2 separate regions of the Homo sapiens genome follow, and region 2 is linked to region 1. Evidence: fine-mapped expression QTL. A gene starts in region 1. The other region holds a variant in brackets. All regions are shown on one strand. Distances are between the middles of the regions. Region 1 holds the start of VPREB1 (V-set pre-B cell surrogate light chain 1). Region 2 has its middle 94 kb from the start of VPREB1.

Region 1 (8,698 bases):
GGACTTCTCTGTCCACATCTACACACATCTAAACCTCTGTAGATTCTGAATTGTTTTTCCTTTTGCACAGAATGAGAGGAACTAAAGTCGAGAGGCCCAGCCCCAACACGGTCCCTGTGGCTCTGTGCTCAGGCGGTTTATGGCTGAGAAGGACTTGGGGGGTTGAGGGCTTCCTATCAGCCCAGGAGACATTATCCGGGTCTGGGAAGCCTGCTCTGCACTTGTGGGTCTCGAATTGTCTGTTGCATTTACCTGCCTCATTATTTTTTCTTCCTGTCTCTCTTCTTACATATTTCTCTCGAATTTGGAGCTTGTTTTTCTTAACTACAATCAACCTGAATCATTACTGCATATATAAATATAAATTTTATATTGAATAGACATTATATACTCAATCTATTACACATTCCAACACAGGCCATATCTAAGATGTATATTTATATTTAATGTTTAAAATATGTTTACATTTCATATGGAAAAATATATTTATATTTAACATATATAAACCCTGGTCTTGGGTTCAACAAAGAGCCAGAAGGCAGCAGAGCAGGCCAGCAGGGCTGGAGGCTGGTCTCAGAGATATGGAGGAGGAAGGGAGTGAGAGACACTCAAAAGGAAGAACCCACAGGGTGACTGTGGCCCTGGTCAGAAGGCAAGGGAGGGATAGGGATGAGGCCGAAAGTTGTAGTTTGGTTGATCAAGTGGATTTTCTCATCACTGTCATGCAGTAAGGGTGTGGGGGAGAGAGAGAATCGGAAAGGAGAGGAAATGTGGCCAGTCACTAATATGATCGAGAAGGTCTGGGCTGGTTCTCCCTTCTTAGGGAATCACAATTCTCTAAGGTGGTGACCCCAGCCACCTAATGGGATCCCAGAATGTCAGGGTCCTTGGAACCCGAAAATTCATTCAGTTACACATTCATTCATTTGTTCATTCAACTGTCTAATTGCCAAGTGTTTATCAGGCACATCAATGGGTTGAGTAGATCCTGCCCACTGAGAATCTGCAGATTAGTAGGGGAGGGAGCTTTGCTAAATAAATTTATAACTGTGCAGTAGAAGCTAAATATAGTTAGGAAAACATGCTGTTTGCACAGTGGAGGAAGTTAATAACTGCATGAAGAGCTCGGGGAAGTCTTGCCCAAGGAGTGAGATTTGAGACAGTTGTGGAGCCCCGAGTCAGTGCAGCCAGATGGAGGCCACAACAAAGGGACAGGAAGTCCTGGCAGTAAACAGCTTGGGCAAAGGTTTAGAAGCAACCAAGAGACTCGGGTGTTTGATCAGTTGCAGTTGGCTTAACATGGCAGAAACAGGGAGAGAGGGTGCACAAGAAATGGGACTTGGGACCAAGCCTGAGCCAGCCTTCAAAGGCTGTGTCATGGGAAGGAGGCTGAATTGCATCCCCTCAACCAAAGTGGTCTCTTCACAAGGCATATGTAGCTCTTGACCACTTGGCTGACCAGATTATCCACTTGAGCAAATTATCCAAGACATGAATATAAAATACATACCAGATTTTGAAGTGTGAATACAAAAGAAAAACAAGTTTAAACTATCTAGTAACTAATTTTTATATTGATTATAGGTTGAATTGGTAATATTGGGGATTTATTATGTTAAATAGAATATATCATTAAAAAATCATTTCACCTATTTGTTTTTACTGTTTAAAAATAATGTAGCCACTAGAAAATTGGAAATTACAGATGTGGCTTGCATATGTTCTTTAGAGTGTGGGAGACAATAAAGGGTTAGAGAGGAGGAATGCATGCAAGGCTGGATCTAGGAGCAACAAAGATGAGGAGTGGTGGGTATAGACTGCATGCAGCAGGAGGATGGATGGGAAGGAGACCAGATAATGGTCAAGGTGAGAAATGACTCAGACTAAAGGAAAGGATTTGACAAGAGGGAAGGCCAGGCAGGTGACTGATGGGGAAATCATGATACTATTATTTTGTTGAGCACTCATGATGGATAAAACCTTTTTGTTTGTTTGTTTGTTTGTTTTTGAGAGACAGTCTTGCTCTGTCACCCAGGCTGGAGTGATGTGGTGCGATTTCGGTTCACTACAACCTCCGCCTCCCAGGTTCAAGCAATTCTTCTGCCTTAGCCTCCCAAGTAGCTGGGATCAGAGGCACCCGCCACCATGCCCAGCTAATTTTTGTATTTTTGGTAGAGACGGGGTTTCACCATGTTGCCCAGGATGGCCTCAAACTCCTGACCTTAGGTGATCTGCCCGCCTCGGCCTCCCAAAGTGCTGGGATTACAGGCATGAGCCACCACGCCTGGCCAGATAAAAACTTTTTATATAAGTTAATCAGTTCTATGATTATCCCCTTTACATGCAACATTGGAAATGTTGGCTTAGATTTTAAGTGACTCCTCCAGAGCTAAGACTCACACTCAGTCTGGCCTCAAGCCTGAGTTCCAGGTCTCATTTTCCATTGAGCTGGTGGGGTGGGGGCATGAGGATGATACAGGAGTCCAACTCAGCTCCCGGCTTTCTAGATCTCTTCTCATAGCATGGAATCCCAGAATCATGAAGGATGGAGGCAAGAGAGGGACGGGTTACAAGCAGAAGACAGAGTTCCTCTGGAACCATCTAGCTGGTCTTTAAAACTGTGGGCCATGGCCAGGTGCAGTGACTCACACGTGTAGTTCAGCCACTCAGCAGGCTGAGACAGGAGGATCGCTGGAGCCCAGGAGTTCAAGGCTGTAGAGCATCATGAATTGAACCTGTGAATAGCCACAGCAGTCCAGCCTGGGCAGCATAGCAAGATCCTATCTCTAAAATAAAATAATAAACAAGTAAATAATAATGTTTTAAAATGTGGGCCTGGCCCAGGGGTAAAAGCCTGATGCAGGAAGAACCCAGTGCATAGAGTATGGCATAAGCTGAGATCACTGTCTCTTTTTTTTTTTTTTTTTTTTTTTGTGAGATGGAGTCTCGCTCTGTCACCCAGGCTGGAGTGCAGTGGCATGATCTCGGCTCACTGCAACCTCTGCCTCCTGGGTTCAAGCAATTCTCCTGCCTCAGCCTCCCAAGTAGCTGGGATTACGGGCATGTGCCAACACACCCAGCTAATTTTTGTATTTTTAGTAGAGATGAGATTTCACCATGTTGGGTAGGCTGGTCTCTAACTCCTGACCTCAGGTGATCCACCCGCCTCGGCCTCCCAAAGTGCTGGAGACCACTGTTTAACAAGAGAGGGACTCATGACCACACATGGAACGCTGATACTGACATGTGTCCACCTCTCTGGGGAGATGCCTCAGGATCTTTTTAGCTGGGGTGAATGCACGTTCCCAGGCAAGTTGGGGTTACAAGGGAGATGGTTTGCCCGGCACCTCTCTGAGTGAGGCATGTCTACAGGTTGTGTGAACACCCAATGTAGAGAGTCCCTCTCCGCAAGGCACACTCAGACCCACCACCCACGGGCTCAGGGGGCCTTGCTGTGGGCCGGGGCTGCAGGGAGCTCCCCATTGCTACTTCACCCAGACAGTCCAACACAGTCTCAGTGAGACCACGTCCTTCATGCCTCTAGGTATCTCCATGGGTCCAGAGGCTTCTGCCTGGGGTCACAGGCAAGATAAGTTGAGGGGGGACTCTGATTATCCCACCAAGCATGGCTTGCTTAAAACCTGGAGACAGGAGCTGGAGTGCTCCCGAGCAGGGCTCAGCAAACTACAGCCTGGGCGCCATACCCAGCCCAGTGTAGCCCCATCTGTTTCTGTAAATACAGCTTTATAAGAACACAGCCATGCCTCTTTGTTGACATGTTTGTCTGTGGCTGCTTTCTTGCTACTAGGACAGAATTGAACAGTTGTGACAGAGATCGCATAGCCCACAAAGCCAAAAATATTTACCACCTGGCTCTTTATAGAAAATGGGCTGGGTGCAGTGGCTCACGCCTCTAATCCCAGCACTTTAGGAGGCCCAAGCAGGGGGATCACTCGAGCTCAGGAGTTTGAGATCAGCTTGAGCAACATAGTGAGACATTCATCTCTCCAAAAATAAAACTAAATAAATAGCCAAGCATGGTGATGCACGCCTGTAGTCTCAGCTGCTCAGGAGGCTGAGACAGGACAATCACTTGAGCCTGGGAGTTTGAAGCTGCGGTGAGCTATGATTGCACCACTGCACTCCAGCCTGGACCACAGAGCAAGACTTTATCCCTAAAAAAAGGAAAAAAAGAACATGTTTGCCGACACCTGCCACTCTCTTGTACAAATAAGTAAATGCATTTACTTGCTCATCTAGACCAGTGGTTCACAATCAGTGTGAGTTTACCACCTGGGGACATTTGGCAATGTCTGGAGACATTTTTGTTTGTCACAACTGGGAAGGGGCATCTGGTGGGTAGAGGCCACAGATAACCACTCACCATTCAACAATCCGCAGGACAGCCCCACAACCAAGAACTGTCCAGCCCAAAACGTCGATAGGACCAAGGTGGAGAACCCACTCTAGGCCTATTACCTGGCTCCTGTTCTCCCTGGAGGCCCAGACCAGGTGCTTTCTAAGCTTGTTTGCCCTGTAACCGCTGGGCAGAATCAGATGACACCAGAGGGTCCTGTCCTGGGCATGGATGCCCCTCCAGGGTGCTTCGGTCAACCCCTTGCCTCCCATGGCCCACAAAAGTAAGGACTCAGGTGAGTGCTCACCACAGTGATCTGCCAGTCTCCCGGGGCCCCGGGCCTTTGCCCAAGGCTGGTACTACGAAGTCGCACAACAGTCAGACCAAACTCAGCAAAAAGTGACAAGCAGCTTTAATTCCCTAATGCAGTCTCCAATGGGGATTTACAGCAACACTGCAGGACCAGGAGATGCTGAGTGGCTCAGCCTCCTCGGCGCTTCGGGCGGCGACTCCACCCTCTTCCATGACAGTCTCTCCAAGGGGATGCGTGCCTCTGCTGTCTTCAGTTCAAGGGACACGTGTCCTGGCTGCAGTGGGTTCCATTTCTTCCTCCCACTCCCTCTCCCTCTCCTCCTTCTCCGAGCTGCGGGCCCCCATAGCACAGTAATACATAGCCTCGTCCTCAGGCTGCAGCTCAGAGATGCTCAAATACCCCCTGTTCCTGGCCACATCTTTGGATCCAGAGAAGCGAGGGGGGACCTGGGGGCCCTGGCTCTTGTCTGATTGTGAGAAATATCTCAGCAGGAACCTGGGAGGGTGGCCCGGCCTCTGCTGGTACCAGTAGACGCTGTACACACCGATGTCATGGTCGTTCCTCAGGGTGCAGGTGAGGCGGATTGTGGTTCCAAGGGCCGAGGACATGGCCGGCGGCTGATGCAGCACCGGCTGAGGACCACAACCTGGTGACACAGATGCATGTGGGCCGTGGGGGCAGGGCAGGATGAAGGAAGGGGCAGGAGTCTTTGGGATCTGGGGGTTCCCTCACCTGTGCAGTAGACAAACAGCATGAGCAGGACAGGAGCCCAGGACATGGTGCAGACATGCAGAGCTCTGACTCCTGTGGCCACGGTGCCTGGGGTCCCCAAGGGCTGGCCCAGCATCCTCCTCCCTGCTCTGAGAGGTGGGGCCGTGGCACACCCCGTTCCTGGCCACTACCATCCCAGACTTTCTTGGGTCTGCAACGTCGGTTACCGGAACAGCGTCGGGGCAGCATTTGTGGCTCTGATCTTGCCATATGGAAGCATTCAGGGAGGAAGCACCTGCTGGAGACTCTGGGGCCAGTGCCCTGGAGGCCTTTGGGTTAAGGTACCTCAGGGGTCGTGACCTCAACTTCCCCCTGAGGAAACCGCACCCCAGATAAATAAATTTTCTGTCTACATTTAAATGCTTGGTGAGCCAGGAAGGGAGGACACATCCTCGGGGGGTGAAAACACCTGCTTTGTACAGCAGAAGACACTGGGGGCCCAGAGCGGGTTGGGATGTTCTGCCCCTTCCATGTTGCAGCACTGCCTTCGGCCCATGCTCCTCTCCCTACTAGAACCAAGTAGAGTGACTCAGGCATGGGAAAGAAGCACCAGGGCCTGGTGCCTTCCCCACCCCTGTTCTGGCTCACCGAGCAGGTGCAGCTTGGCACTGTGATAGACTGAATTGCATCCCCCAAATCCATAGGTTGAAGCCCTAACCCCCAGTGTGCCTGTATTTGGAGATAGGGCCTTTAAGGAGTTAATGAAGGTTAGATGAGGTCATAGAGGTGGGGCCCCGGTCAGTACAACTGGTGTCCTTATAAAAAGGGGAAATTTGGGAGCCGGATGCAGTGTCTCACACCTATAATCCCAGCACTTTGGGAGGCCAAGGTGGGAGGATCACTTGAGCTCAGGAGTTCGAGTCTAGCCTGAGCAACATGGCAAAACCCCATCTCTACAAAAAAAATTTAAAAATTAGCTGGTCATGGCGGACAGGCACCTGCAGTCCCAACTACTTGGGAGGCTGAGGTGGGAAAATCACTTGAGCTTGGGAGGTTGAGTTGAGGCTGCAGCAAGCCAAGATCTCACCACTGCCCTCCAGCCTGGCCAACAGAGGGAGACCCTGCCTCAAAAAAAAAATGAGAATAAAAATAATACATTAAATGTATGTTTGCATACTACCTGCAAGATTTAAAAAAAAATTAAGGGGAAATTTGGACTTAAAGTCTCTGATCCCACATGCTCACCCTCCCTCAAAAAGCTGGAGTGTCTCCTCCCCTGGAACCTGTGCAGGCCTGTGATCAAGGCTGAAGTGTCCCTGGGTGCACGAGGTGGCACTGAGCAGCTGGGTGTGCACTGGGACTGTTTACTTGCAAACACTTTGATAGAGCAACCACCCCTGAGGCTCAGATGAGCCCCTGCTCGGTGTCAAGCTGCCCCACATCCATTCTCTGCCTGGTGAGGTGCAGGCTGCACCAGTTTCAGCCCGCAGGGTCGACTCTGGGAGCCCCACCCTTCTTCCCACTGCCTCTCTGGCCAACAGCTCCACTGCCCAGGTGAGGGCTGGGGAGGGCCTCTGCAGACACAGGATGTCTTGACCACTCTGTCCAGTAACAGCTGCAACCACATCTATGACCTGTTGCTCCTCCCTCCTCTGCACAGGCTGGTGGGCAGTGGGGAACTAACCAGTGACTGCTGACTCCTGGAGAGGAGAAAGGAAGCTTTTTTCACTCATTCATTCATTTATTCCCTCATCCAGTAGCTCATTCATGTGTTGTGCACGTATTTGTGAAAGAGAAATATACCTCCCAGACCCCTCCGAGAGCACCAGTCCTTGGGAATCAGGGCAGGAGAAGGTTCCACCTGTGGGCACCAGCACTACTGCAGTCCCTGAACTAGCCCTACCACTGACACTGTCAGAGCTTTTTGATCCTTTTAAGCTCAGAGAGGATAGGTGTTTCTACTTGCTCTTACAATTATACTTAGAGAGCAAATAAGCCCAGCCCTCAACCGTAGAGACACTCTGGTCCCAACTTTCTTTCACAGGCTTCACTGACCCAGGACCTTTGCATCACTCACAGAGCAAGATAGTATCCAGTGGTGACTGTGCGTGCTGGGGAATGACTGGGCCTTCCAGACCCTGCTGGAGATGGTCTCAGACCCCTGGAGCATCTAGAGTTAGATGCAGGTCATGCACTCTGAACTCTGCATTCTCCTGGCCCTGGGCCACTCTTCCCACCTCTGTTCCCTCAGCCTTGTCCTCAACCCACCAACACCTGGACTCAGGGATCATCTGCAGGGCACAGCAGTTTGATGGGATTGAAGAACACCATGTATTCAGTCCTTTCTGGCTGCACTCAACTCTTTTTAGATAATTCTAGACCAAGAGAAGGTTGGTGAGCTCTGTAACAGACCTCAAGGTCTACAAGGGTCTCAGGGGAGACAGGAGCTATTCAGTGCTCCTGCCTGGTTTGTAGATTTTTTTTTTTTTTTAGAGACAAGGTTTCACTCTGTTGTCCAGGCTGGAGTGTAGCGGTGCAGTCACAGCTCACTGCAGCCTCGAACTCCTGGGCTCAAACAATTCTCCTGTCCCAGCCTCCCAAGTAGCTGGGACTACAAGCACATGCTACCACACCCAGCTAATTTTTTTTACTTTTTGTGGAGACAGGGTCTTGCCATTTTGCTCAAGGCTGGTCTCAAATTCCTGCGTTCGAGAGATCCTCCTGCCTCAGCTTCCTAAAATGCTGGGATTACAGGTGTGAGCTACCCACCGCACGCCCGGCTGAATAGATATTTTAAACTGTTTCAGCGATCCACTGCTACGTGGCAAACCACCCGTAATGTAGTCATTTAAAACAAGACTTGATTAGTTCCCCAGTTCTGTGAGTTGCCTGGGTGGTTCTTCTGGTTCCACCTACAATCATGCATGTGGTTATGGTCATTGATGGCTGGACCACCTGCACTGGAGGTCTATCCAAGATTGCACTTCATTCTCCTACACATGGCTCTGATATTAGCAAGCTCTCACCCTCGGTGGTCTAGTGGTCCCTCTGGTCACCCATTCGTCCCATCTCCTTTCCTCCTCCCTCATGTCAGGGTCCCCCAGTCCCCGTCTCCCTCATTTCACATCCGAAGGCATGCTTACCTAGTGCCTTTCCACCCCTCTGCTCTCACATGGTGCTAAGCCAGGCTCGCACCAGTCTCCTTGTCACCACAGGACCTTTGCCCGTGATCCCAATGCCAGGATGAATTCCAGTCCCTCAGAACTAACCTCCTTCCTCCAGGTGCTCACTTCAGAGTCCCTTCCTGGGCAGCCTCC
Region 2 (8,698 bases), 93 kb before region 1:
AGAGTTTGCCTCCCCCTAGTGGCCAGGTGCTGCGTCACACTCAGGGATCAGACAAGGCCTTCTGGGCCCCTGCTTCACCTGGAGCCCATGTGGGTGTCCTGGAAATTTCTCAGGCTCCATTTCTAATGTCTCAGGAATCTCCACAGTGCTTCTTTCCCTCTGGGGTCCCACAGTGGGATGCAGTGACTAGATCAGTTAATCCTGGAGCCCGCCCAAGGCACCTGTTCCAACTTTCATTATAGGATGGGCGAGCCCTTCAACTGTTACTCCACACAAACTGAAGATGTGTCCACACTTGTAGATGACCACCTTCTCACTCTGTCCTCATCTCATTTTATGTTGTCCATTTTCTAATCTCCTCTTATAAGGATGCCGGTCCTTATGATCTCATTTCATCTTAATTACCCTCTGTAATGCTCTGTCTCCAAATACAGTAATATTGGGGGTTAAGGCTTCAATGTGAATTATGGAAAATTTAGTACATAATGACCAGTAATTACAGTACTTTTTTTAATTGATGAGAATGAGTTAGAATAGGATAAATATATAAGTGTGAAAAGGAAAATTTTATGAATATAACATCATATATATTTTGACATTTGAACAAGTGTATTTTTAATTGTCATAGAATACACACAACATAAAATTTGCCATTTAAATCACTTTTAACTGTAAAATTCAGTGGTGTTAAGTATATTCACAATGTGATAGAATTGCCTGGCATGGTGGCTTGCACCTGTAGTCCCAGCTACTCAGGAGTCTGAGGCAGGAGGCTTGCCTAGACCCAAGAGTTCAAGGATGCAGTGAGCTATCATTGTACCACTGCACTCCAGCCTGGGCAACAGAGCAAGTTACCACCTCTGAAAAAAAAGTGATACAGTCATCACCATTATGAATTTCCATAACTTTCTCATCATCCCAAGTGAAAAGTTTGTACCCTTTAAACGTTTATTTCCCCTCCCCACTCCCCTAACCCCTGGTAACCAGTGGAGAAGAGGGGGATTGGGAAACTGGGTGAGGGAGAACTCAGGGCTCTGAGACACAGTCCAGGAAGAAGCAGAGCAGAGACAGCACCCATGCTGGCTCTTGGGAGATGCTGCTTGGGCAGGTGAAAGCTTTCTGTGGCTGTGTTTCTATCCCTGCATGACCACGTTGATGCAGGCTGCCCGCTGTGGGATGTAGGATCAAGTCTCGTGGGTCCCATGGCAGTGTGTCCTGTGACTCCACCTTTCTCCCCAACAATGTGTCAGAGACAAACACTGACAGCCTTTTGTTGGGGCACTTGACACATAATTCACTACCTCTTCCTATGTGCATTCCCTCCAACAGTCATGTTACGTATCCTCCAGAGACTTCAGAAATGTCCTGCTTTCAGTCCAATTCTTTCATGATGGTCAAGGGGAATTGCATCAGTAGAACATGGATTCTGCTTTCCAATATGCTAAAGAGAGTTTGAATCTATGGTAAAAACAAATGAGATTGTACTATAATTTTGATATCTAATACTATTCATATTGATTGTGTGCCATTCTTTTCTGGGATCAGAAATAACTTTGGATCATGCGATCTCTATTTGGTGCCCTTTGAACATTTTCTTCATGTGTGGTAGCACTGTCTCATGATGCTGCAGGGCTTGGACTTTTGAATGAAGATGTTTGATCATTTGATACACACATGCACACACACACACACATACACACACACGAGAGAGAGACAGAAAGAGAGAGAGAGATCTGTGGACAGTTGCGCTAGCATAGGCTGGCCTAGGATACAAGTAAGGAGAGAAGGCAGGTAGAATAAGATGACCCTCAGTGTCCTTATGTTTGCCCCTGAAGGACTTTCTTGTCCAGTGATTGAATCCATTTCTAGCACCAAGACACCAGCCAGAGTGTGCTCTACCAGAGCATCCCAGCCCATGTCACTCATAGGGCAGTAAGTGAGATCCTTTGGAGGATACTTGAAGCACAGTCCAATGTTCATGGAAATTATGCAGTTGTTTTCTGGTAAGATTGCTGGAAAGTAAAGCCCCTTGAAAATATCTTTGTAAGCCATGCCTTGACTAACACCATTTTTATAAAATCTTATCTCACTGTGGGAAGTCTCTTTTAGGCTCTTCTCTGCTTCAGTCACAAAGTCTTTTTCCTCAAAACACAAATAATTCTTAAACTTTATCAAGGCCTTATCTTTGTAAGTATCAGGCAATGACTTGACTGTCTTTGTTTCTTCAGGAAGATTCATATAAAATCCCAGGATGTCTCCTTGTCTATAGCTAGAAGAGTAGTGTTTGCCAGTGGACTGGTGGAACTTCATTCCCTTTAATTCTCCCAAGAATAGTTAAACTTATCATAAACTAAGGAAGCTTGACAGTTATCTAAAGACTGGGACCAACCCAGTCTGGCAGCAGTGTCTGGTGGCATCTCATCCATGGTGATATCAAGGTAACCCATGAGAATCCCGTACCATAGAGTAGACCTTCTGTTCAACCACAGTCAGCCAGCAGGTCATTGGAGACTTTTAACTGGGGAGCTCAATTATGTCAGGCTAACAAAACCTGTTCATACAAGCAGCCTCTGTAGAGGTCTCCAGGAATAAGGAATTTTGCCCAGCAGTCAAGTTCAAGCTTCTGAGGACCAAGGGCGTGGGGATCAGGCTCAGCTAGAATATACTGGTAGTTATCTTTGTTCAGTGGGTGCTCTAAGGTGTATGAGAGGGAAGGCACTGAGCAGAAAACCCTGGACCTTCTTGGTGGTCCCTGTGATCTCCCCATTCAGCTGTTTGCACTGAGCTTCTTTTCCTTTTTTCTGCTGCTTCCTGTTGCTGTTCCCTCATTCAGATTCTCACTGGTAGACAAGGTATTGCTTTGTTTTTGTTGCATAAACAGGACCAATGTTACCAAGGTCCTGGTCTAAAAGTTCCAATCTAGGGTCATCTCCTTTTGGTTCTTTACTCACTAGATCCAGTGGTTCTTTTACCAAGAATATATCACTTTCTTTACTCATTGTTTTCACAATTGTATTTGGTCAAGTCATTTTCCCAGGTGTCTGAATGATTGTTGTGCACTTCCAGTATTTACAATAAATGGTATAATAACCTTATCTCTGGAAAAGGTTGTCTTTGGATATTCATCCTCTTTTTGTGACTGCCATGTCAAGTTGGCCAAAGCACTAAAGCACATTTCCTTCACGTTTGCTTGTATCTGGAGGAAATAGGTATTCTCACTATGACTGCATATATTGCAATGAAAATATAGTTAGTCATGAAAGGTAGGCAGGATGAAGTATCTATGCCAGATATTTCAACTGTGAACCACTTTGGAAAGCAACAGATGCCCCTTTCCAGCTGAAGCAGCTGCTACCACTGCCACCAGCTTCATCTCCCCCTCTTCTGCAGCCCTTGCATTTGTGGCCACTCCTGGACTGGGTCCGGCACCTGTGTGCTATCATTATGCCCCCACCCCGCCCCAGATTTCTTCACATTATTCTGAGTCCCCTGTAATGAGGCACCTCCTGCTCTCTTGGATTGTTAGGATGCTGCAGGGCTGGCAAAAAATGAAAGACGTCCTGGATACTTGTGCACACTCTCCTACTACTGTATCTTTCTACTGTTCTTGGAAGTAGAGCAATGGTGCCAAATATAAATCTTCCTCTTTTTGACTGTGGTAAAATATTCAAACATAAAATTTGTTACCTTCACCATTTCATGTGTACACTTCAGTGTCACTAAGTAAATCAACTTGTACAATCACACTGCTACCATTCATCTTCAGAAATTTTTCATCTTCCCAAACTAAAACTTCGCAACCATTAAACAAGAACTGCCCGGCTCGGTGTGGTGGCTCACTTCCTTGATTTCAGCACTTTGAGAGGCCAAGGTCGGTGGATCACTGGAGCCCAGGAGTTCAAGATTAGCCTGAGCAAAATGGTAAAACCCCATCTCTACTAAAAAATACCAAAAGTTAGCTGAACATGGTGGTGCATGCCTGTAATCCCAGCTACTTGGGAGGCTGAGGCATGAGAATCGCTTGAACCCAGGAGGCAGAGGTTGCAGTGAGCCAAGATTGTGCCACTGCACTCCAGACTGGGTGACAGAGGGAGACTCAGTCTCAAAAACAAAACAAAGCAAAACTAAACTAAACAAAAAACAAATAACTGTCCATTCTCCCCCTACTCTCCACCCCAAGGACCTGGGAAACTTCATTATACTTCTTGTCACGGTAGCTTTTACTACTCTAGGTACCTCATATAAGGGTAATGAAACAATTTTTGTTCTTTTGAAGCCAGCTTATTTCTGCTGGCATGATGTCTTTCAGGTTTATCTGTGCCATAGCATGGGCCAGAACACTCTCTTTAAGGCTGAATACTATTCCCTTGTGTGTGTATACTATATCCCATTTATCCATTAGATGGACACTTGGGCTGCCTCTACCTTTTAGCTATTGTGAACAATGCTGCTATGAACAAGGGTGTACAAATTTCTCTTTGAGACCCTGCTCTGAATTCTTTTAGGCACATACCCAGAAGTGAAAATTCTGTTAAAATGGTAATTCTATGTTTAATTTTTTGAGGAACTGCCATAAGGCTTCCACAGTGGATGCATCATTTTATAGTTTCTCCACAATTTCTACTCATCTTTGCCAGAACTTGTTATTTTCTATTATTTTGGTAACGCCATCCTACTGGGTGTGAAGTTGTGTATTATTGTGGTTTGATTTGGATTTCTCTAATGATTAGTGATGCTAAACATCTTTTCATGTGCTTATTGGCCATTTATTGATCTTCTTCGGAGAAATATCTATTCAAGTCTTGGGCCCATGTTTTATTCAGATTGTTTCTATTTTTTTATTCCTGTTGAGTTGTAGGAGTTCTTTCTATATCCTGGACACCTTACCAGATACAATGTTTGCAAAATATTTCCTGACTCCATGATTTGCATTTTCCCTCTGTTGATAGAGTCCTTTGTTGCACATAAATTTTACAATTTGATGAAATCCAATTTATCTATATTCTTTTTCTTTTTTTTTTCTTGTGCTTTTGGCGTCAAATACAAGAAATCATTTCCAAACCCAATGTTGTTAAACTTCTTCCTAGTGTTTTCTATTAAGATTTTTACAGTTATGGCTTTTCCATTTGGGTCTTTTATCCATTTCCACATTGCATGTGGATATCCAGTTTTC[T/G]CAAAAACATTTTTTATGGAGTCTGTCCTTTCCCCACTCAATGGTCTTGCTACCCTTATTTAAAATCATTTGATCATATAACTAAGAGATTCTTTCTGGGTGCTCAATTCTATTCTATTTGTCTGTCTATCTATTTGTCTGTCTATCTGTACCACTCTGCTTTGATTGGTGTAGCTCTGTAGTATGTTTTGAAATCAGGAAGTGTGAAATCTCCAACACTGTTCTTCTTTTAGAAGATCATTTTGGCTATTTGGAGTCCTGTGATAGTCTATGTAAATTTTAGAATTAATTTTTTCTACTTTTGCAAAAAAAATTATTGGAATTTTAATAGAGATTGAAATGAATCTGTAGATTTCTTTTGGTTTGTATTGATTTCTTAACAATATCAAGTTTTTCAATTCATGAACAAATGTTTTCTTTCCATTTATTTGTGTATTCTTTAATTTCTTTTAGCAATGTTTCTTTCCATTTATTTGTGTATTCTTTAATTTCTTTTAGCAATGTTTTATAGTTTTCAGTATAGAAGAGTCCCCTTCTTGATTCTTAAGTATTTTATTCTTTCTGATGCTATTGTAAATTGAATTGTTTTCTTAATTTCATTTTGGGTTGTGTCCTGTCTTCTTGTTTCCTGTTTGGTTGATTAAGTATAGAAATATAAGAACCCTGTTTGTTTGCTTGTTCGTTTGTTTGTTTGTTTTTGAGACAGGGTCTCACTTCATTTCCCACGCTGGTATTGAACTCTCTTGATCCTAACCAATCCTTTCACCTCAGCTTCCCCAAGAGCTGGGATTACAGGTATGAGCCATCATGGCTGTCCATTAGATGGTTTTATGTGTTGATTTTGTATTCTGAAATATTACCAAATGTATTTAATAGTTCTAACAGTTTTTGTTTTGGTGGGACTTATTTTATTTATTTATTTATTTATTTATTTATTTGTTTATTTTACTTTAAGTTCTGGGATACATGTGTGCAGAACCCGCAGGTTTGTTACAGAGGTATATATGTGACATGGTGGTTTACTACACCTATCAACCTGTCATCTAGGTTTTAATCCCGGTATGCATGAGGTATTCATCCTAATGCTCTCCCTCCCCTTGACCCCCAGCCCCCCCGGACAGGCCCTGGTATACGATGTTTCCCTCCCTGTGTCCACGTGTTCTCATTCTTCAACTCCCACTTATGAGTATGAACATGCAGTGTTTGATTTTCTGTTTCAGTGTTACTTTGCTGAGAATGATGGCTTCCAGCTTCATCTATGTCCCTGCAAAGAACATGAACTCATTCTTTTTTATGGCTGCATAGTATTCCACAGTGTATATATGCCACATTTTCTATATTCAGTCTGTCATTGATGGCCATTTGGATTGGTTCCAAGTCGTTGCTACTGCATAGAGTGCTGCAATAAACATATGTGTCCATGTGTCTTTATGGTAGAATGATTTATAATCCTTTGGGTATATACCCAGGAATGGGATTACTGGTCTCAAATGGTATTTCTGGTTCTAGATCCTTGAGGAATTGCCACACTGTCTTCCACAATGGTTGAACTAATTTACATTCCCACTGACAGTGTAAAAGCATTCCAATTTCTCCGCAGCCTCACCAACATCTGTTGTTTCCCGACTGTTTAATAATTGCCATTCTAACTGGTGTGAGATGGTACCTCACTGTGGTTTTGATTTGCATTTCTCTAATGACCAGTGATGATGCGCTGTTTTTCATATGTTTGTTGGCCACATACATGTCTTCTTTTGAGAAGTGTTTGTTCATATCCTTAGTCCATTTTTTGATGGGGTTGTTTGTTTATTTCTTGTAAATTTGTTTAAGTTCCTTGTAGATTCTAAATATTAGACCTTTGTCAAATGGGTAGCTTGCAAAAATTTTCTCCCATTCTGTAGGTTGCCTGTTTACTCTGATGATTGTTTCTTTTACTCTGCCGAAGTTCTTTAGTTTGATTAGATCCCATTTTCAATTTAGCTTTTGTTGCCATCGCTTTTGGTATTTTCATCATAAAGTATTTGCCCACACCTGTGTCCTGAATGGAATTGCCTAGGTTTTCTTCCAGGGTTTTTATGGTTTTGGGTTTTACATTTAAGTCTTTAATCCGTTTTGAGTTAATTTTTGTATACGGTGTAAGGAAGCGGTCCAGTTTCTGTTTTCTGTCTATGGCTACCAGTTTTCCCAGCACCACTTATCAAATAGGGAATCCTTTCCCCATTGCTTGTTTTTGTCAAGTTTGTCAAAGATCAGATGGTTGTAGATGTGTGGTGTTATTTCTCAGGTCTCTGCTCTGTACCATTGATCTATTTATCTGCTTTGGTACCAGTACCATGCTGTTTTGGTTACTGTTGCCTGGTAGTGTAATTTGAAGTCAGGTGGTGTGATGCCTCCAGCTTTGTTCTTTTTGTTTAGAATTGTCTTGGTTATCCAGGTTCTTTCTTGGTTCCATATGAAATTTAAAGTAGCTTTTTTCTATTCTGCAGAAAAAGTCAGTGGTGTCTTCATGGGAATAGCATTGAATCTATAGATTACTTTGGGCAATATGGCCATTTTCACGATATTGATTCTTCCTATCCATGAGAATGGAATGTTTTTTCATTCCTTTGTGTCCTTTCTTATTTCCTTCAGCAGTAGTGTATAGTTCTCCTTGAAGAGGTCCTTCAAGTCCCTGTAAGTTGTACTCCTAGGCATTTTATTTTCTTTGTAGCAATTGTGAATGAGGGTTCACTCATGATTTGGCTCTCTGCTTGTCTATTTCTGGTGTGTAGGAATGCTTGCGATTTTTGCACATTGATTTTGTATCCTGGGACTTTGCTGGAGTTGCTTATCAGCTTAAGGAGTTTTTGGGCTGAGATGATTGGGTTTTCTAACTATACAGTCATATCGTCTGCAAACAGAGACAATTTGACTTCCTCTCTTCCTATTCAAATACGCTTTATTTCTCTTGCCTGATTGCCCTGGCTAGAACTTCCAATGCTATGTTGAACAGAAGTGTTCAGAGAGGGCATCCTTGTCTTGTGGTGGTTTTCAAAGTGAATGCTTCCAGCTTTTGCCCATTCAGTATGATGTTGGCTATGGGTTTTTCATAAATTCCTCTTATTATTTTGAGATATGTTCCATCAACACTTAGTTTATTGAGAGGTTTTAGCATGAAGGGATGTTGAATTTTATCAAAGGGCTTTTCTGCATCTATTGAGATAATCATGTGGTTTTTGTCTTTAGTTCTGTTTATGCGATGGATTACATTTATTGATTTGTGTATGTTGAACCAGACTTGCATCCCAGCGATGAAGCCGACTTGATTGTGGTGGGTAAGTTTTTTGATGTGCTGCTGGATTCAGTTTGCCAGTATTTTATTGAGGATTTTCGCATCAATGTTCATCAAAGATATTGGCCCGGAATTTTCTGTTTTTGTTGTGTCTCTGCCGGATTTTGATATCAGGATGATGCTAGCTTCACAAAATGAGTTAGAGAGGAGTCTCTCTTTTTCTATTCTTTGGAATGGTTTCAGAAGGAATGGTA

Evidence for each region. PIP is the estimated chance that this variant, and not a neighbour inherited with it, causes the effect.
Region 2: its variant is fine-mapped to the expression of VPREB1 in whole blood (TOPMed, PIP 0.96).

Annotation. Positions count from the first base shown.
Region 1 is chr22:22,241,564-22,250,261 of GRCh38, reverse strand. It overlaps VPREB1 (V-set pre-B cell surrogate light chain 1), which reads right to left and starts at 5,476. Exons shown (of 2, transcript NM_007128.4): 1 at 5,403-5,476; 2 at 4,747-5,316. The coding sequence starts at 5,448. The coding sequence ends at 4,925. It also overlaps IGL.
Region 2 is chr22:22,334,342-22,343,039 of GRCh38, reverse strand. It overlaps IGL and the pseudogene ASH2LP3. Among named protein-coding and RNA genes, the nearest start is that of VPREB1, 94 kb to the right of the region's middle. The variant T/G (reference allele first, on the strand shown) is at 5,174.